2 separate regions of the Homo sapiens genome follow, and region 1 is linked to region 2. A link means that fine-mapping ties the variant in region 2 to the expression of a gene that starts in the linked region. Tissue or cell type: lung. Region 2 holds a variant in brackets; the other region holds the start of a gene. All regions are shown on one strand. Distances are between the middles of the regions.

Evidence for each region. PIP is the estimated chance that this variant, and not a neighbour inherited with it, causes the effect.
Region 1: it holds the start of TPD52L2, and the variant in region 2 is fine-mapped to the expression of TPD52L2 in lung (TOPMed, PIP above 0.99).

What each region holds. Positions count from the first base shown.
Region 1 is chr20:63,860,526-63,870,497 of GRCh38, reverse strand. It overlaps TPD52L2 (TPD52 like 2), which reads right to left and starts at 5,228. Exons shown (of 7, transcript NM_003288.4): 1 at 5,114-5,228; 2 at 1,057-1,202. The coding sequence starts at 5,132. It overlaps ABHD16B (abhydrolase domain containing 16B), which reads right to left and starts at 9,000. Exons shown (of 1, transcript NM_080622.4): 1 at 7,510-9,000. The coding sequence starts at 8,957. The coding sequence ends at 7,548. It overlaps ABHD16B-AS1 (ABHD16B antisense RNA 1), which reads left to right and starts at 5,425. Exons shown (of 2, transcript NR_165314.1): 1 at 5,425-5,674; 2 at 6,228-9,283. RefSeq lists enhancers at 3,777-4,496, 5,218-5,938, 4,978-6,177, 6,271-6,500 and a silencer at 5,761-5,810.
Region 2 is chr20:63,771,703-63,781,674 of GRCh38, reverse strand. ZBTB46 (zinc finger and BTB domain containing 46) reads left to right here. Exons shown (of 5, transcript NM_001369741.1): 3 at 5,713-5,997. It overlaps LOC124904956 (a long non-coding RNA gene), which reads left to right and starts at 9,626. Exons shown (of 2, transcript XR_007067720.1): 1 at 9,626-9,865; 2 at 9,954-9,972. RefSeq lists enhancers at 3,218-3,755, 8,356-9,272. The variant C/T (reference allele first, on the strand shown) is at 4,349.

The DNA.
Region 1 (9,972 bases), 89 kb before region 2:
CTGAAAAAAACCTTGTGGATTTAGTTTCTAAACTCACATATTCTGAAGTTAAATGGAAAGCAAAGTGTCCTTGGACTTCCTGCTACTCTCCTTTAATCTTCTAGGCTAGAAATAGCTGTGTGATGTCCTCAGGATCTGAAACCTGGTCCTCAGACTCAGCGGCACAACCAACCTTACTCAGACCTAGGCCTGGACCCAGATTCTGGAATTAAACCACATCACAGGGTGAAAAGAAAACTCTTGGCAGTTGGTTTGACTAAAAATTATGGTTGGAGGCTTTTGTTCTTAATTCCTACATTACTCTTAAGGGACTCTCACTTAAAGAAGATCACATAAATACTTTTTAGAAAAGAAGTTTTTGTTTTGTTTTTGAGACAGGGTCTCGCCCTGTCACCCAGGCTGCTGTGCAGGATGCAATCACAGCTCACTGAAGCCTTGACCTCCTGGCCTCAAGCAATCCTCTCACCTCAGCCTCCTGAGTAGCTGGGACTACAGGCACATGCCACCACACCTGGCTAATTTTTGGGGGTAGAGACAAGGTCTCACTGTGTTGCCCAGGCTGCTCTCAAACTCCTGGGCTCAAGTGATCTTCCCACCTTACCACCCTGTCCTCCTAAGGCGCTGGAATTACAGGCATGAGCCACTGCATCCAGCCAAAATAAATATGTTTAAAAGAAAACTTAAGATCCAGGACAAGAAAGATTCATGGGGTCTTAAAAATGATTATCAAGTGTTAATTCCAACAGAGACACTCCCAGCAGATGGCTGCTCAGAGGCGGTTCATGTGTGAACACTCCTCAGGGAGCACTTAGGAAGGGCCAGGCACAGAGGTATGGGAAGGGAGTCATGCCCTGTCTCCACTGCCAGGTGGCTCTGAGTCCAGTGCATGGAGCTGGGCACATACAAAGAGAACCCCGTTATCAGTCGGAACACAGAGCAGGGTAGGTGACCACCCAGGGCAATTCCTCCCGAGCGTGGCCAGTACCCTGGCCTCTCACTAATCCAAGAGGGCCTTAACTCCAATTCACCCCAGGACAGACAGCCAAGCCACAGCACCTTGGTAAGCTCAGCCCTGAGCTCCTCCTCCTCAGCCTCTGTCAGACCCTCAACAGCAGGAGTCCGGGCAGCCACACCTGTGTCGACAGGAACATCCGTCATGGAGTCAGACAGCAGACCTTTGTTAGGAGAATTCAGGTTGATATCTGCCAGAGACAAAATGAGGCCACAAAGTGTCAAATAAGTTAGTTCCAAGTAAATACGGTAGAGGTCTCTAGCAGGACAAAAGCACAGGTGGGAGTGGGTGAGACCCTGGAGACTAACACCTCTTCTCTGAAAGGTCTGTGAGGACAGCATGGGCAGTAGACGAGGGCAGCCACACCTCAGACCACCTGAGCTGAAAAGCCAATGCCACTTGTGCTGCTTCAGGGCACGACAAATGCCGGCCCAAGGCAGGCAAACCCGAATTCTGGCTTCCCAGTGAGAATACTATCGTCAGAGGCAGGAAACCCTTGCTACAGAGAAAGCAGCTCAATCTAACAGACCTTCCACCTTTTTTTTTTGATGGAGTCTCACTCTGCCTCCCAAGCTGGAGTGCAATGGTGCGATCTCAGCTCACTGCAACCTCCGTCTCCCGGGTTCAAGTGATTCTCCTGTCTCAGCCTTCGAGTAGCTGGGATTACAGGCGCACGCCACCACGCTGGCTATTTTTGTATTTTCAGTAGAGACGGGGTTTCGTCATGTCGGCCAGGCTGGTCTCCAATTCCCGACCTCGGGTGATCCGCCCGCCTTGGCCTCCCAAAGTGTTGGGATTACAGGTGTGAGCCACCATACCCTGACAAATTTCCACTTTTTTTAAAAAAAGGAACCTAATATGGTTAATATACACAATAAGCATCACTTTCCTCTCAACACATCTGACAGAGCACATGCTAAAATTACGTACTAGGAGCACATGCTGCTCATTCAGCTCCTTCAGGGAGGCAGCAAAACAAAATTCCCTTTACTTACCTCCCGATTCTCATCCCACTGCCAGAAGGCCGCCAGCAGGCAGAGAGGTGCAGAGCGGTGTGCTGCCACCACACACCTCAACTACACCCAGATCACATTCAAATTCCTGCAGCCACTGTTTTTTCTTCATGTCAAATGCATCTTCCTGACTACCCTAAAAGTCTACAAGATTTCACATAAAGAAAAACAGTCTATTTCGATTCTCTCCAAATCCAAGCACATGACTATTGTAACACTTTCCCTGTTGACCAAAACATTCTGAAAAGAAACAGGCTTACTGCCAGGCGCAGTGGCTCATGCCTATAATCCCAGCACTTTTGGAGGCCGAGGCAGGTGGATCACATGAGGTCAGGAGTTCGAGACCAGCTTGACCAAAATGGTGAAACCCCGTCTCTACTAAAAATACAAAATTAGTTAGCGTGGTGGCACGCGCCTGTAGTTCCCAGCTACTTGGGAGGCTGAGGCAGGAGAATCACTTGAACCCGGGAGATTACAGGCGTTGAGCCACCACGCGCGGCCAAAAAAAAATTCTTTAAAAAAAAAAAGAAAAACTGGTCGGGCGGGGTGGCTCATGCCGGTAATCCCAGCACTTTGGGAGGCTGAGGCGGGCGGATCACCTGAGGTCAGGAGTTCAAGACCAGCCTGGCCAATATGGTGAAACCCCGTCTCTTTTTTTTGAGACTGTCTCAAAAAAAAAAAACAAAAGAAAAGAAAAAGAAAAAAAAACTATGCCTTTTAAAAGACAACACAAAGACACCAGATTAAATGCACTTAACAAAGATACTCTTCTTAAAAGCTGGCTGCATCTCACTCCCTTCAAATGTCCCATAGGACTGGAGCCGTGTGCACTTCCTTGGCGCTCCACAAACGCTTACTAAACGAAGCGTATCCACTTTTTTATCCACTGATTCTCTTTTTTTTTTTTTTAGACGAGTCTTACTCTGTCACCCAGGCTGGAGTGCAGTGGCACGATCTCCGCTCACTGCAACCTCCACCTCCTGGGTTCAATCGATTCTCCTGCCTCAGCCTCCCAAGTAGCTGGGACTACAGGAGCACACCACCATGCCCGGTTAATTTTTTTATTTTTAGTAGAGACGGGGTTTTGGCACGTTGGTTAGGCTGGTCTCAAACTCCTGACCTCAAGTGATCCACTGGCCTCGGCCTCCCAATGTGTTAGAATTACAGGCGTAAGCCACCGAGCCCAGCCTTTCTGTTCTATTTAAAAAAAGACAAATGAGGCTGGGCACAATGGCTCACACCTGTAATCCCAGCACTTTTGGAGGCCAAGGCGGGCAGATCACCTGAGGTCAGAAGTTCGAGACCAGCTTGACCAACATGGAGAAACCTCCATCTCTACTAAAAATACAAAATTAGCCGGGCATGGTGGCGCACGCCTGTAATGCCAGCTACACGGGAGGCTGAGGCAGGAGAATCGCTTGAACCCAGAAGGCAGAGGTTGCGGGAAGCCATGATCGCGCCATTGTACTGCAGCGTGGGCAACAAGAGCGAAAATCCGTCTCAAAAAAAAAAAAAAAAGTAGAAAGACCAATTAACCTGGCATGGTGCGCCTGTAGTCTTATAGTCCCAGCTACCTGGGAGGCTGACGCAGGAAGATCGCTTGAGCCCAGGAGTTGAAGATTGCAGTAAGCTATGATTGCACCACTGCACTCCAGCCTGGGAGACAGAGGGAGACGCTGTCCCCAAAAAAAAAATTAAAAAAAAAAAAAAAAAAGGCCAGGCGCGGTGGCTCACGCCTGTAATCCCAGCACTTTGGGAGGCCGAGGTAAGCAGATCACGAGGTCAGGGTATCAAGACCGTCATGGCTAACAGTGAAACCCCGTCTCTACTAAAGATACAAAAAATTAGCCGGGCATGATGGCGGGCGCCTGTAGTCCCAGCTAGTTGGGAGGCTGAAGCAGGAGAATGGCAGTGAACCCGGGAGGCGGAGCTTGCAGTGAGCCGAGATCTAGCCACTGCGCTCCAGCCTGGGCGACAGAGTGAGACTCCATCTCAAAAAAACAAAAACAAACAAACAAAAAACACCCTCCAGAATAATGCAGCACCTAGGAATTATAAAGCTTAATATGTAGCCGGGCACAGTGGCTCACGCCTGTAATCCCAGCACTTTGGGAGGCTGAGGCGGGCGGATCACAAGGTCAAGAGATCGAGACCATCCTGGGCAACATGGTGAAACCCTGCCTCTACTAAAAATACAAAAATTAGCTGGGCCTGGTGGCGCGTGCCTGTAGTCCCAGCTACTCAGGAGGCTGAGGCAGCAGAATCGCTTGAACCCGGGAGGTCGAGGTTGCAATGAGCTGAGATCGCGCCACTGCACTCCAGCCTGGCGTCAGAGCAAGACTCCGTCTCAAAAAAATAAAGAAAGAAAGAAAGAAAGAAAGAAATTTAGCATCCCTCTCTAGAGCCCCAAAATGCAAGGCAGACTTTTATCATCTTCTCAAGATTTTAATCTCCTGGGCTCGCTCCACGCCCCTCAGTGGCCATCTCATACTGCTCTGGGGAGACTGTTCTGGAAACAGGCCTGGTATGCTGGGTGTGCCCCTGACTCACTCCACCCCCTCTCCATGAGGCAACCCCTAAGCAGGCTGAGCTCCGAGCAGAGTTGCTGCCCAAGGGGAGCTCTGCTGAACGCGAAGACCCCTTCTCTGCTCGGGAGCCGCCCTCAACACCTCGGACTGGGTCCAGGGCCAGACAGCGTGAACCCGAGGGCCCCGCGCAGGGACCGGGGGGTGGCAGAGCAAGCAAGAGCAGGGCACGGGGTGGGCGGCATAAGCGAGACCTGCTGGGAGCGACAGAACCCAAACTACGGGAGCAACGGCGGGCGCCAGGGAACCACACCTCGGAACGGTCCCAGGGGAGACCAGGAGGGCGGCTGGAGAGAGCCCAGGAAGCGGTCTGGGCCGCGGGCAAAAAACACACCACGACCATCATAAGCTTCGAGGTCAGTGGCCCCGGGAGCTGAAGAGGGGCCGCGGGGTGGGTGAACCGAGACCGAGAGGACAGAGAGTCGCAGACGCGACCCCGGGAGACGGAGAACAACGGGCAGCCTGGGCCCATCTGCGGCGAAGGGGCCGGGCCCGGCAGGTACCTTGGCCGGCGGAGTCCATGTTCGGGCGGCGTCCGGACCGCTGTCGCGGGCGCTATGGGAGCCGAGCGGGCGGCGCCGGGAGAAGCTCGCCGCGTACACACTAGCCAGCGGAACTGCCTCAGCTCCGCGGCGTTTCGTAATCCGCGATGCGACGGCTACTTCCGCCCGGGCACGTGCTCCGCCTTCTTCCCGCCCCCACCAGTGATATCCAATGAGAGTGCCGCTTGGCCCGTCCTGGTTTACCCGACTCAACCTGATAGGCCGAAACTGCGGGCGAACCAGGAAAGGGAGGCGTGGTTCGGCGGGAATCCATTCCAGGTTGACTCCACCAGCGAGAATCACAGGTAGAACGGTCAGAGTAGCGGGAGGACTGGGAAGGTGGGAAGTGGGAGGACCGTCCAACATGGCGCTGTGGAAAGCCAGCGCAGGGCCCCAGGGGATCTTCCGGGGCGGATGCAGCTGCCTAGGAGTGCTGGGGCTCGCGCGCCTCGGCGGCTCAAACTCTGACCCCTTGAGATCCTTTCCAGCCCGACCCCTTACTTTAGGGGTCAGCCTGCCCCCGTAAGTCCTGTTATTTATTGTATTTATATTCTTTTTTTAGTTGGTCCTTTTTTGTTTGTTTTTGAGACGGAGTTTCACTCTTGTTGCCCAGGCTGGAGTGCCATGGCGCGATCTCAGCTCACTCCAATCTCTGCCCTCCGGGTTCAAGCGATTCTCCAGCCTCAGCCTCCCGAGTAGCTGGAATTACAGGCGCGCGCCAACACGTCCGGCTAATTTTCGTATTTGTAGTAGAGACGGGGGTTTCGCCACCTTGGCCAGGCTGGTCTAGAACTCCTGACCTTAGGTGATCCACCCGCCTCGGCCTCCTAAAGTGCTGGGATTACAGGCGTGAGCCACCGCCCCTCACGCCTGGCTAGTTTGTCCTTTTCATGGGGACTTTTTATTGTACGCGGGTTACTCTGAAAAAGATCGCGATTCGTCCCCTCGCCCTGCAGGCGCCGCTGCCGCCTCGCCTCGGGCGTGGACCCTGCGGCTCGGGCCTGCGCGTGTGCACCCCGAGGTTGTCTCACTTCCTGTTCAGGGCGACCAGCGCTGCGCCCTCCCCACTCCACAGATGAGGAAGCTGAGGTTAAAGTCACTTGCCCCAGGTCACTCCGCAAGTTGAAGCGCAACCAGGATACTCTGGAACAGGATGCCTGACTTCAGAGGAGAGGCGCGTAACCACCAGGCAACTGGCCCCACGAAAACAAGTCCCGCAACTTCCCTTCTTTGGCTCCTACTTGCTCCCGGAAGAAAAGCCTTAAACGGTATTCAAGCCCTTTAGGATCTGATGTCCTAGGACTCCACTCTGGGCTTCCAGCCTGGGGTGGTACTGGTCCCTAGGCATGGAAGCTCCTCCCACTGCCCCTTCCTTCACCCGGCCACCTCCTCCCACAGGTGTCTTCCTGGTACTCTTGCACAGGCCCGAGTCCCTTACCACCACGGCCTTAGCCTGCTCTCGTGCTCTCAGTAATGTTTTCTCCATTTGCTGCCTTTCATTCTTTCCAGAGATTCTTGCTCAACCCAACCAGGCCAGCCCGGGGACTAGGGACATGTAGGGACAATAGTCCCTGCTTCAGGCAGTTCAGGGCAGACCACAGAGATGTGACATTACAGACCATTGTGAGCAGAGGCCTTGTCCCATTCTGTGTTGCATCCCTAAGCCAGGAACAAAGTCCAGCCCAGGCCTGGCTCCAGGGGACACGCAGTAGTATCCTCTGGCCTGTGCAAGTGTATCTGTAGCCTCACATGCCACCATGTGAGTCTGCAATCTGTCTGTGAATGCCCTGGTGTAGAAGCCAGGAGTTTGGAGGTGGGAGGGAGCCCTACAGAATGATAGCCAGTGCTAACTCCTGGGAATGTCCAGCCACTAAGACCTGCCCACAGCCCTGCCATGCCAATGTCCTCCTTTTCACGGGAGCAGCTTGCACAGACTTTCAGCGCACAGCTGGCATTGTCTTCCCAGGAGCCATCCTGTAACCCAGGCCAGGTGAAGGGCTCCTCCCTGGGACCCCACAGCCCCGTTCCCATCATCCTTTTGTGGTGATCAAGGCACCCATCACACAGTATTGCCATAAACCGGGTCAGGTTAACCTTTCATTCCCTTAGGAGCTGGGTGGGGGCAGCCAAAAGTATTTGTAGGAGGAAGAGAGAAAGGAGGGGACAGAGCTAGGAAGAATGGGAGGACGGTCAGAACGCCCCTGTGAAGGAAGGAGAGCACCAAGTCCCCGTGTTCTGCCTACCCTCCCCCAGACAGCAGATCAGGAGCACCCCGCGCGCCCCCCCCCGCCCCGCCCCGCGTCGGCGCCGGCCCCCTGCAATGGTTGGCGGTATGGGGAGGTGAACCAAGAAGGCCAGGAGTTCAAGTGCGTGATCCCCCACTGGGGCATATAGGTTACAGCCGCCAGGGCAACTGAAACTCCTCAGGCTCCAGAGGGCTGAAGTGAGTCGCCTCCACGTTCTTGAGGTGCTTCCGAGCCAGGAACAGTGCGAGGCGCCGGCGCCGCCGCGAGCTCAGGCCCTGGCCCACCAGCCATGGGAAGGCGGGTCCGTGTGGCCCCAGGGCCTCCTCGCCCTCCAGCTCCTCTTCGCAGCGTGCACGGTAGGAGCGCAGCAGCGCCAGGCACCAGTCCTCGTCCACGCGGTAGCGTGCATAGAAGGCGGCCTCCTGCGCCAAGCTGCCAGCGCGCAGCCAGCGGGTGACGACGGCGCGGCCCTCTCGCGCCATCACGACGGGGTAGCGGTGCTCCAGCAGGCGCAGCAGCAGCTCATTGCCCCGGTTGCCCTCCACGTCACCAGGTGACAGGGGGCGCAGGCGGCCCGAAGTGCTGACCACGTCATCCTGCGTGCGTCGGAGCAGCAGCACCGGCCCCGGGTAGCAGCACAGCTGCTCGGCCACGTTGAGGTTGAAGTGCTCGCGCACGGTGCGCACCACCAGCCCCTTCCAACTGTGGGGCATGACCTTCAGCGCCAGCGGCACAAGGTCGTCGAAGGTGGCGTCCAGCACCAGTGCACCCAGCTCCGGGTAGGTCATGGTGGCCCAGGTGGCCGTGAAGCCGCCAACAGACCAGCCGTAGACCACCAGGTGCGCGGGCGGGAAGTGCAGGCGGTGCAGTGCGTACTCGACCACCACGTCCATGGCGTTGGCGTCGTGCTGAGGGAAGGGCACGCCAGTGCTGCTGCCGAAGCCGGGGTGGTTCCAGCCCAGCACGGAGTAGCCGGCCTCGAGCGGTGCAGACAGACAGCCCATCTCGTAGAAGCCCGCGTTGCCTTCGCAGCAGATGACGAGGCGCGGCCCGTGCACGTGGCTGCCCGGGTGCTGGCGGCGGTCCATGAACATAGTGTCGATCTCGTTGCCGTCACAGGCCACCAGCTTGGCGCGCCGGCCGTGGTAGCGCTCCACGAGGCGCTCTTGGCCCTGCTGCAGCAGCGGCAGCAGCGCGCGCGTCATCAGGGACACGGAGCCGGGGTACACGAGCCAGCGGCCCAGCGAGTGGGCCAGCGCGTAGCTAGCGAGCTGGCCGGGCAGCTCGCGGAGCTGCTGCAAGAGGCACTGCGCCTGGCTGCGCGCCCCACGTGGAGGCCGCCCCAGCGCATCCCCGCCCAGCGTCTCGTCCCGCAGCAACCACACGCCCGCCGCGGCTGCCGCGCAGGTCAGCGCCCGGTGGCTGCTGCTCCGGCCCACGGCGCGCACGTCATCCCAGCGGAAGGCCACGGGCCAGCCGCGGAATGGGTAGGTGTAGCTGGCGGTCAGGTAGATCTTGAACACGCGCACCAGCGCCTTCACGAAGCAGATGACGCACATGAGCGGTGGCCCTAACGCCCAGCCGCTGGGCCGGGATCGCCGCGAGAGGCACAGGGCAGTCTTAGGGGATACCGGCTCCCGGACAAGCCCTGATGGCCTTTGTGACCTGGCCTTCCAGGGCGGAGGGAAGGCTGCATCCTGTTGCTAGGTGATGGGTGCACAAAGGGTTCCCAGAGATGATGAACCCAAGGTTCTGCCCGTCCCCCGCCTTCGCCAAGACCCCACCAGCTAAACGCTCCCAGGCCCAGCTTTCCCACCCATGATTTGAGCAGCTACTGTCTCCCTCTTTCTTCCTTATTTATTTATTAAATTGAGATGGGGTCTCACTATGCTGCCTAGGCTGGTCTTGAACCCCTGGGCTCAAGCGATCCTCCCGCCTCCACCTCCCACAGTGTTGGGATTACAGGTGTGAGTCCCTGCACCCCGCCTCCACCTCCCACAGTGTTGGGATTACAGGTGTGAGTCCCTGCACCCCGCCTCCCTCTTCCTTAAATTTAAGATGGACAGCCCCACGGGCCAAAAAGGGACAGCAAGGCCTCCTCCGCCTGTACCAGGCTTGCTGTGGGTCCTGCAAGTTTCCCTTCAGGGTCTGCTGGTTTAAACCTCATCTCCCCAGGACGGCCGGGGTCAGAGACAGGGCTGCTGCTGCACCAAAAAGGCGGTATTTGCTCTCGGCCCGGCCCCTCCTCTCCACACCTTCCTTCTTCGGTGCTGACCAGAAACAAGCCCTCTCCTTTTCTGGATCCTCTTTTCACTGGCTGCCAGCAACAGCAGTGACCTTCTGGGGCGGGTCCTGCCTGGCTGGGGTTCCTCTTTCTCGCTCCTGGGTCGAGCCCCCACTCCCAGGCTGCGCCTCCCTCTTTTCTGGAGAGGTATCTTTTCTCCTGCCCTGGAAAGGGCCAGCCCACCTGAGGGCAGGGTCGGAAGCCGCCTGCCAGGAGGAGCCCCAGGGAAGAGGGCAGCTCCAGGTACTCAACAGCTCCCCAGACCAGAAACAAACATGCTACAATCAGGG
Region 2 (9,972 bases):
GATTACAATCACCCAGCACCACCCCTGGCTGATTTTTTGTATTTTTAGTAGAGACGGGGTTTGGCCGTGTTGGCCAGGCTGGTCTCGAACTCCTGACCTCAGGTGATCCGCCTGCCTCGGCCTCCTACAGTGCTGGCATGACAGACGTGAGACGCCACACCTGGCTTCTCTATGGTCTTTGATTTGCATTTCTTTGATGGCGGATGATGCCATTCATATATCTTTTTTGGTAAAGTGTCTGTCCAGGTCTTTTTGCCGTGTTTCGATTGGGCTGTCTACGTGGTGACCGTGAGGCTCTGGCCGAGTGAGTGTCGTGGCTCAGCTGGCGGTGATGAGCATCGGGCACCTGCTCCACATCTGGGTCTCTTCCTTGGGGAAGTGTCTGTTCAGATCTTCTGCCCATCTTTTATTACTGAGTGGTGAGAGTTCCTAGGTGTTCTCGTTCCAAGTCCTTCATCAAGTATGTGCTTTGAAAATATTTTCTCTTGGCCTTTGGCTCCTTTTTTCTTTCTTTTTTTTTTTTTTTTTTTTTTTGAGGCAGAGTCTTGCTCTGCCACCCAGGCTGGAGTGCAGTGGCACCATCTTGGCTCACTGCAAACTCTGCCTCCTGGGTTCACGCCATTCTCTTGCCTCAGCCTCCTGAATAGCTGGGATTACAGGCACCCGCCACCGCGCCCAGCTAATTTTTGTATTTTTTTTTTTTTTTTTAGTAGAGATGGGGTTTCACCATGTTGGTCAGGCTGGTCTTGAACTCCTGACCTCATGATCCACCCGCCTTGGCCTCCCAAAATGTTGGGATTACAGGCGTGAGCCACTGTGCATGGCCTCCTTTTTTCATTTAACAGTGTCTCTTCAGGAGGATCCTTTTTTTTTGAGACGGAGTATCATTCTGTCGCCCAGGCTGGAGTGCAGTGGTGCAATCTCGGCTCACTGCAAGCTCTGCCTCCTGGGTTCACACCATTCTCCTGCCTCAGCCTCCCGAGTAGCTGGGACTACAGGCGCCCGCCACCACGCCCGGCTCATTTTTTGTATTTTTAGTAGAGACGGGGTTTCACCATGTTAGCCAGGATGGTCTTGAACTCCTGACCTCGTGATCCGCCCGCCTCAGCCTCCGAGAGTGCTGGGATTACAGGCATGAGCCACCGTGCCCAGCCAACAAAGACTTTCTCCTATGGTTTTTCTTGAGTTTTTATCAATTTAAGTATAACGCATAGCTCCATGATTCAAGTTGGTTTTTTTGTATGTGGCGTGAGATCAGCTTGAGGTTCACTTTTTACATAGGATTATAAGGTTGTTCCAGTGCTGCTTGCTAAGAAACCTGTCTTTTATCCATTGAGTTACCTTGCTAACTACTATATACATAAAATTAATGAGAATTTCTTTTATCTGTCTTTTTTTTTTTTGAGATGGAGTTTCACTCTTGTTGCCCAGGCTGGAGTGCAATGGTGTGATCTCGGCTCACCGCAACCTCTGTCTCCCTGGTTCAAGCGATTTTCCTGCCTCAGCTTGCCGAGTAGCTGAGATTACAAGCACGCACCGCCATGCCTAGCTAATGTTTTGTATTTTAGTAGAGACGGGGTTTCACCGGGCTGGCCAGGCTAGTCTCAAACTCCTGACTTCATGATCCACCCATCTCGGCCTCCCAAAATGCTGGGATTACAGGCATGAGACACTGTGCCTGGCGGAAACCCAAATTTTAGCATTTCACACAAGGGAGAGTTCTTTCAGCTTATCCTGATTTCTTTTATGTGTTTTTCACCTTGATTTGTTACAATAATTTAGATTTAAAATTTGGCTTTAAAATTGGGTGATTTTGGCCAGGCATGGTGGCTCATGCTTGTAATCCCAGCACTTTGGGAGTCTGAGGTGGGCAGATCACCTGAGGTTGGGAGTTTGAGACCAGCCTGACCAATGTGGTGAAACCCCGTCTCTACTAAAAATACAAAAATTAGCGGCCGGGCGCGGTGGCTCACAGGCCTGTAATCCCAGCACTCTCGGAGGCTGAGGGGGGCGAATCACGAGGTCAAGAGATCGAGACCATCTTGGCTAACACGGTGAAACCCCGTCTCTACTAAAAATACAAAAAATTAGCCAGGTGTGGTGGCAGGCGCCCTGTAGTCCCAGCTACTCAGGAGGCTGAGGCAGGAGAATGGCGTGAACCTGGGAGGCGGAGCTTGCAGTGAGCCAAGATCATGCCACTGCACTCCAGCCTGGGTGACAGAGCAAGACTCCGTCTCAAAAAAAAAAAAAAAAAAAAAAAAAAAAAAATTAGCCGGCGTGGTGGCACGCACCTGTAATCCCAGCTACTCAGGAGGCTGAGGCAGGAGAATCACTTGAAGCCGGGAGGCGGAGGTTGCGGTGAGCTGAGATCATGCCATTGCACTCCAGCCTGGGCAACAAGAGCGAAACTCCGTCTCAAAATAAATAAATAAATTAATTAATTAATTAAATAAAATAAAATTGGGTGATTTTTTTTGAAGCCTGTTATGAGCTGAATGTGCACCCCCACACTCATGTGTTGAAACCCCAGCCCCCGTGTGGCTGCGTCTGGGGAGGGCCTTGAAGGAAGTGATAAAGTGAAGTCACAGGCGGGGCCCTGATCCCTGAACACGCTCGTGAGCACACAGCACCCACCACCCACTCTGCTCCCAGACTCTGAGGAGGGGCCCCCAGGGCTCACCTGCCGCCATCTGCAGGTCAGGAGGGGCCTCACCAGACAGCAGATCTGCTGGCACCTTGACCTTGGACTTCCCAGTCTCCAGAGCGTGAGGAAACTAATTTTCGTTGTTAAGCCGCCCTGCCTGTGGTATTTTGTCATGGCATCCCAAGCTAAGACAAAGCCTTAACATAAGTTTGGATATAACCTGTATATTTAGTTCCTAGAAATGCACAATTAATATGATGTGTCATCGAGGGATTTGTAAAAAAATATAAAAAGGAGTATAGTTTGGAAAAAGAGTAGAGTTTGGAAACATATCCCTTAGAGGCCTCCAGAAGAAGTCATAGGTAGCTCGACGGTCCGAATGTCACTGTCCCTGGAGACTCCCACCCGCTCCTGCCAGGCTGGACTCACCCCGTGTGCTGCCTGACGGGGGCCCTGCCCACCTGCCACACCCAGCTCTCAGCTGCTGGGCCTCACGTGTGCATGTTTGTTCCAGGGGTGTTTGCAGACGTCACCTCTGCCCCTGCTCCAAGTGCCCCCTGCCCCATGCCCCTGTGTTTCTGTGGTTCTGATCCCGATTCCTGTCAACGACCACGGTGGAAAATCCATTCTCTTGCTGTGGGAAAATATCTGCAAATCATCATCGCTCAGCGTGTTCTGGGGGTGTTTTGATATCGTGCATACAGCCCCACTAGAGGGAGGGTACTCCACAAAGCCCTGGCTGGCCTGAGCTGACACTCGGAGGAATCCGTTGAATTCATGACTCAAGTCGTCACCTTTTGTTGTTTTTGTTGTTGTTGTTAAATAGAAGCTTTACTGAGAGATGATTCACACCCCACTCACCCATTTAAAGTCTGCAGTTCAGAGGTTTTTGGTATGGTATATTCACAGCATCCTGTAGCCATCAGCACAGTCCCCTTAGAACATTTTCCTCGGCTCAGAGGGAAACCCTGCACCACTTAGCCCTCATCCGAGACCCCTCCCCAGCCCCTTTTTGCAGCCACAAACCTACTTTCTGTCTTGATTTGCCTGTTCTGGATATTTAATGGAAATGAAATGGCATGTGGCCTTCTGTGTCTGGCTTTGTTCACTCAGCAGTTTTCAAGGCTCCTCTGCGTGGTTCTGTGTCTGGCTTCGTCCGCTGAGCATGTTTTCACGGCTCCTCTGTGTGGTGGCCTGTGTCTGTTCTTCATGCCTTTTCATGGCCACATAATATTCCATTGTGGGGATGGACCTGTTATGTTTATCCATTCGTCCATCGATGGACTTGTTGGCTGTTCCACCTTTTGGCTGTTATGGATAACGTGCTACGCGCGTCCTGGACGAGGTTTTCTGTGAGCTTTTGTGTCTTCATTTCTCGTGGGTATCTGCATGCGTACATGTGGAACTGCTGGGCCCCGTGGTGATTCCTGTACCTGATGTTGTGAGGACCTGCCGACCTGCTCCGCAGGAGGGCACCATGTTACACTCTTACCAGCAAGGTTCCAGGGTTCTGATTTCTTCCCATCCTTGCCAATATTATCTGATCTTTTTTGTTGTTGTTTTTGAGATAGGGTCTCACTCTGTCACCCAGACTGGAGTACAGTGGCTCGATCACAGCTCACCACAGCCTCAACCTCTCAGGCTCAAGTGATCCTCCCGCCGCAGCCTCCTGAGTAGCTAGGACCACAGGCACAACCCACCACA[C/T]TCAGCTAATTTTGTTTTATTTTAACTTTTTGTCCTGCTGTGTTGCCCAGGCTGGTCTTGAACTCCTGTTCTCAATAGATCTTCCGGTCTTAGCCTCCCAAAATGTTGGGACTGGAAGCGTGAGCCACGGTGCCTGGCCTTTTTATATCCAGCCATCCCAGTGGGTGTGTGCTGGAACCGTGGCGTGTGCTGGAACCGTGGCGTGTGGTGGAACCGTGGCGTGTGCTGGAACCGTGGCGTGTGGTGGAACCGTGGCGTGTGCTGGAACCGTGGCGTGTGGTGGAACCGTGGCGTGTGGTGGAACCGTGGCGTGTGCTGGAACCGTATTGTGTGGTGGAATCGTGTTGTGTTTTGCGTTTCCTTAGTGATGGGTGATGCTGAGCATCTCTTCCTGTGCGTCTTGGCCATTTATACATCTTCTTTGGACAAATGTCTAGTAAGATTTTTTGCCCATTTTTATATTGAGTTACAGTATTTGCCTTTTTATTATCAGATATATAGGTTGCAATTTTTTTTTTTTTTTGAGACAGAGCGTTGTTCTGTCGCCCAGGCTAGAGTGCAGTGGTGTGATCTCGGCTCATTGCAACCTCCACCTCCTGGGTTCAAGCGATTCTCCTGCCGCAGCCTACTGAGTAGCTGGGATTACAGGCACGTGCCACCACGCCCGGCTAATTTTTGTATTTTTAGTAGAGATGGGGTTTCACCATGTTGGCCAGGCTGGCCTTGAACTCCTGACCTCAGATGATCCGCCCGCCTCGGCCTCCCAGAGTGCTGGGATCACAGGCTTGAGCCACCGCACCCGGCGTCACTTTCTTGGTAGTATCCTTTGAAGCACAGACATTTAATTTTGATGAGTCCAATTTATTTTGTTGCTTGTGCTTGGTTTTGTATCTAAGAACCTATTGCCAAATCTGAGATCATGCGGATTTTCTTCTAAGAATTTTATAGATTTAGCTCTAACGTCATTGATCCATTTTGAGCCTCTCCTCGTCTTTGCGAGATGGAAATACTGCCGCCCCAGGAGCCTCTGACTCTCAGGCCCTCGGCCCTGGAGCAGAGCAGGTACCAGGTCTGCAGCGCCTCGTCCAGGGAGGGCAACCCCGTTGTTCTGAGTTGAGCCGTCCTCCAAAGCCTTGGCTGAGACTCCACCGCAGCCATGGGACCTGGGTGGGCAGGAAAGGCCGGGCTGGGCCGAGGCTGCTGCATTGCTGGGGCAGGTGCCCGGCTCCCAGGGTGGGCTGGACTTGATGCTGCTCTGTAGCTCAGGCAGAAGCTGGTCGCTGTCCTTCTAAATGTGTCGCCTGTCCCACTTGGAGAGTCTGGGAACGACCCGTGTCTTCTGACGTGTGTCCCTCTGTCCCCAGATGCGGACCTGTCCGTCACCGAAGCCAGCAGCTCCGACAGCCGAGGAGAGAGGGCCGAGCTCTATGCACAGGTGGAGGAGGGTCTCCTGGGAGGAGAAGCCAGCTATCTGGGCCCTCCCCTCACCCCAGAGAAGGACGACGCCCTGCATCAGGCCACCGCGGTGGCCAACCTGCGCGCGGCGCTCATGAGTAAGAACAGCCTGCTGTCGCTGAAGGCCGACGTGCTGGGGGATGACGGCTCCCTGCTGTTCGAGTACCTGCCCAGAGGGGCCCACTCGCTGTCCCGTAAGTGCAGGCCCTGGGGGCCGCTTGGCTTTGGTGTGGTTTTGAAGGCTGAGGGTTGCAGGTCCCGGGCCAAGATGAGATGAGGCTGAGGGTCTGTCCCTGCTGCTCGGCCGCCTGCTGACCTCCCTGTTGCGGGAGGTGAGGATGCGGCGTCACAGCCTGGACTGGCCTCTCAGGTGCACGGGGGGCTGGCTTTAGAGTGAGGAGGGAATGGACGCGGTTGTGAGCGCGGCGGGCAGGGGAGCAGCCGAGTGCTTGCTGGAATGTTTCTCACAGGAGTCGTTGGCTGAATGCGAGCTCGTCCGGGTCGCGCAGGGGCCGGGGGTCTTTGTGCTCCAGAGACGGGCTCGGGCGCCCCCTGCCGGCCCCTCTGTCGCCTTCGTGCTGAGGCTCGTTTCGCGCAAGGGAGATGGGGGCGGCCGCTGCGAGCCGATTGCACTTGGGGGCCTCGCCTTGCGTTGCCTTCGCTGGATGATGCTGGTGGCGTGTGACTTTTAAAGATGCGTCGGAGGTTGTCTTTAAAACGTAAATGTCCCCAGCTGAATCCAAACGACGACGCGCCTGCCGAGATGTGGCCAAAAGTTCAGCCACTGCTGCGTGTCGGGCTCACCCCAGACTGACTGACTTCCTGACAAGACGGGGGCATTCAGCTTTCGGAGTTTAAAAAAACAAAGGGGCCGGGCGCGGTGGCTCACGCCTGCAATCCCAGCACTTTGGGAGGCTGAGGCGGGCAGACCACGAGGTCAGGAGATCGAGACCATCTTGGCCAACACGGTGAAACCCCGTCTCTACTAAAAATACAAAAAATTAGCCGGGCGTGGTGGCGGGCGCCTGTAGTCCCAGCTACTCGGGAGACTGAGGCAGGAGAATGGCGTGAACCCGGCAGGCAGAGCTTGCAGTGAGCCGAGATCGCGCCACTGCACTCCAGCCGGGGCGACAGAGGGAGACTCTGTCTCAAAAAAAAAAACAAAAAAAAAAACAAAAAAAACCCACCGCAGCCAGCCCCCAGCCAGCTGCCTTCTGGTCTCGCGCTCATGTGGGCCCCCGGGCAAGGCCTGGTGCTGGCACCTAGCACATAGCTGGCACTCAGCATGCGGCTGAGAGTGAGTGAGGCGCCTCCCGTTTCTCTCCAGGGGAGGAGGGAGCGAGTCCGGCATGAGATGCCCCCACCTCCGCGGCTGGGGTCCAGGCGTGCTGAGTGGTGTGGACACATTGTTTGCTGAGTATTGAGGGAAGTGAAGGAAGGAAACGTGCCAGCTGTCCTTGATGCTGGGATTTGGGAAGTATATCTGTTTCTCTGTTTCTTTACGCTGCTCTAAAAAACAATATTTTTACAACTTTGTTTTCATAAGCACTAAAATATTCTTTCGAATTTTCGCGTTGGTGTGAGCACTGATGCCAACTGTTTGTGGGTAATAAAGACTACATGTGGAAAGTGGTGTTCACCTTCCCTTTATTCCGTGTACTCAGTGAGGAGCCGTGTCCGTCGAAGGGTCTTGGCCCTGAAAGTGAGGCTCAGGGCTGAGCACTGCACAGACGGGACAAGCTGTGGGTGCTGGGCTGTCACAGACATCCTGAGGCCTCACTTCCCACATCTGAAAAACTGGGGGGGGGGGGGGGGGCGGGGGGTGCCACTTACACAGCTGTTGTGAATTCAAACAAAATAGCGTTTCTAAAATATCAAACACGGTGCAGGCAGAGTGTTTGTGATTTATGCTCCAAGATGTTGGCCCCGTCCCCTCTCAAATGCAAAAGTGTACTTGTCAGCAGAAATGGTTGGATTTGAGCAAACCCCGGGGTACTGGGGCCTTTCCAGGAGGCGGTGGCAGGGCATGTGGGCATCCTGCAGTCGGCCAGCCGGTCAGATGGAGCGCTGGGCACGTTTCGTGGGCGTCAGGAGGGACAGGCTGGGTGCGGCCAGCGGCGCATGCCCGTGGGTGCGGTCGGAGGGGGATCCCGGGCCTCCCTCACTACCCTCCCCTCCGACCGCCTTTTCACATGAGCAGCTTGGGTGCGGCCGGTGGCACATGCCCGTGGGTGCCGTCGGAGGGGGATCCCAGGCCTCCCTCACTACCCTCCCCTCCGAGCGCCTTTTCACATGAGGGGCTTGGGTGCTGTTTCCTGTGGATCTCTCAGACCGTCGTATACACTCATTCAGGGCAGGGACCCCAACACACCCAGTTCCTTTGCAGCACCCCAGGTACAGCTGGTGTGTCTTGGTCATTAAGAACGACTTTGGGAGCCTGGGCAACGTGGGGAAACCCCATCCCTACAAGAAGTTAGCCCAGCATGATGGTGCCTTGTGCCCGTAGTCCCAGCTACTCAGGCGGCTGAGGTGGGAGGATCGCTTGAGCCCAGGAGGTTGAGGCTGCAGTGAGCCATGATTGCATCATTGCCCTCCAGCCTGGGTGACAGAGTGAGACACTGTCTCAAAAAAAAAAAAAAAAGCCATTGGACTGAGGGGAAACAATTTGTTTGTGCTTTTTCTACTGTTTCTGCGTCTGACAGCCCTCCCTGGGTGTGGCTCCGTCCATGAAGCCTTTGCTGGTTTGTGTGTGCAGCAGATGGGGTCGGAGGGCACGGCTTGGCAGAAGATGTCGATTTCACCCGTGGCATACGAGCTGTGGGCCCTGTGGTGCCAGGTCTGACCTTGGGGAACACATACCCCAGCTCGGCCTTGGTGGCCCTGGCAGTTTCTCCCCTTCCTCGGGGCTTTTCTGTTCTGGGCCCCTCCTTTCCGGAAGCGAGCCCCGGAGCACGTGGAGGGAGTGGCCGCGGAGCCTGAGGCTGGGACCTTGAGTGGTTCTGGCTTTTTCCCAGGGCCTCTCCCTGCAGTGAGAGTGCTGTGTCCTCTGCATCCTGAGTGTGTCCTAAATCCTGAAGGTGGGGTGAGGGCACACCCCGCACTTCTGTGTGTGTGTGTGTGTGTGTGTGTGTGTGTGTGTGTGTGTGTGTTTTTGAGACAGGGTCTCGCTCTCTTGCCCAGGCTGGAGTGCATTGGCACTATCTCAGCTCGCTGCAGCCTCTGCCTCCCGGGCTCCAGCAATTCTCCTGCCTCAGCCTCCCAAGTAGCTGGGACTACAGATGGGTGCCCCCACACCCCACTAATTTTTATATTTTTAGTAGAGACAGGGTTTCACCATGTTGGCCAGGCTGGTCTCGAACTCCTGAGCTCAGGCGATCTGCCTGCCTCAGCCTCCCAAAGTGCCGGGTTTATAGGCGTGAGCCATCCCGCCTGGCCCCATCTCACTCAGTTTTTAGTTCATCTGTGACTAATTCCAGGTGAAGTTGGCTGGTGGGTCTTTTGTTATTTCTCTTAAGTTCTAACCTCATTTTTAATATTCTAAATTTTCTATTTCTCTTGTAAGAATTTGCCCTTTTGGGCCAGGCATGATGGTTCACACCTGTAATCTCAGCACTTTGGGAGGCCAAGGCAGGTGGATCACCTGAGGTCAGTAGTTCAAGACCAGCCTGGCCAACATGGCGAAACCCTGTCTCTACTAAAAATACAAAAAATTACCCGGGTGTGGTGGCGGGCACCTGTAATCTCAGCTACTTGGGAGACTGAGGCAGGAGAATCGCTTGAACCTGGAAGGAGGAGGTTGCCGTGAGCCGAGATCATGCCATTCCAACCTGGGCAACAAGACCGAAACTCGTCAGAAAAAAAAAAAAAAAAGAATTTGCCCTTTTGTTTTCTGTAAACACGGTTTAGAAGTTGTCAGCATCCTTCGCCTGTCGGGCTGTGAACTGGATGCCCCAGACGCCTGCCCAGCAGAGTGGCTGTAGAACTCGGCGGGGGACAGGTTATTTTAAAACGTAATTTTCTGGCATCCTGTGTGGCCCCTGCCTGTTTCCGGCATGCACTGAGGTAAATAATGGAAATACTCAGAAAAAACTTGGATTTTCCAAAGTTCTGTGGTCCTCCCTCACTGCCGTAGGCCTTCTGTCCCCGACAGGTGGTCCCGTGGAATCCGC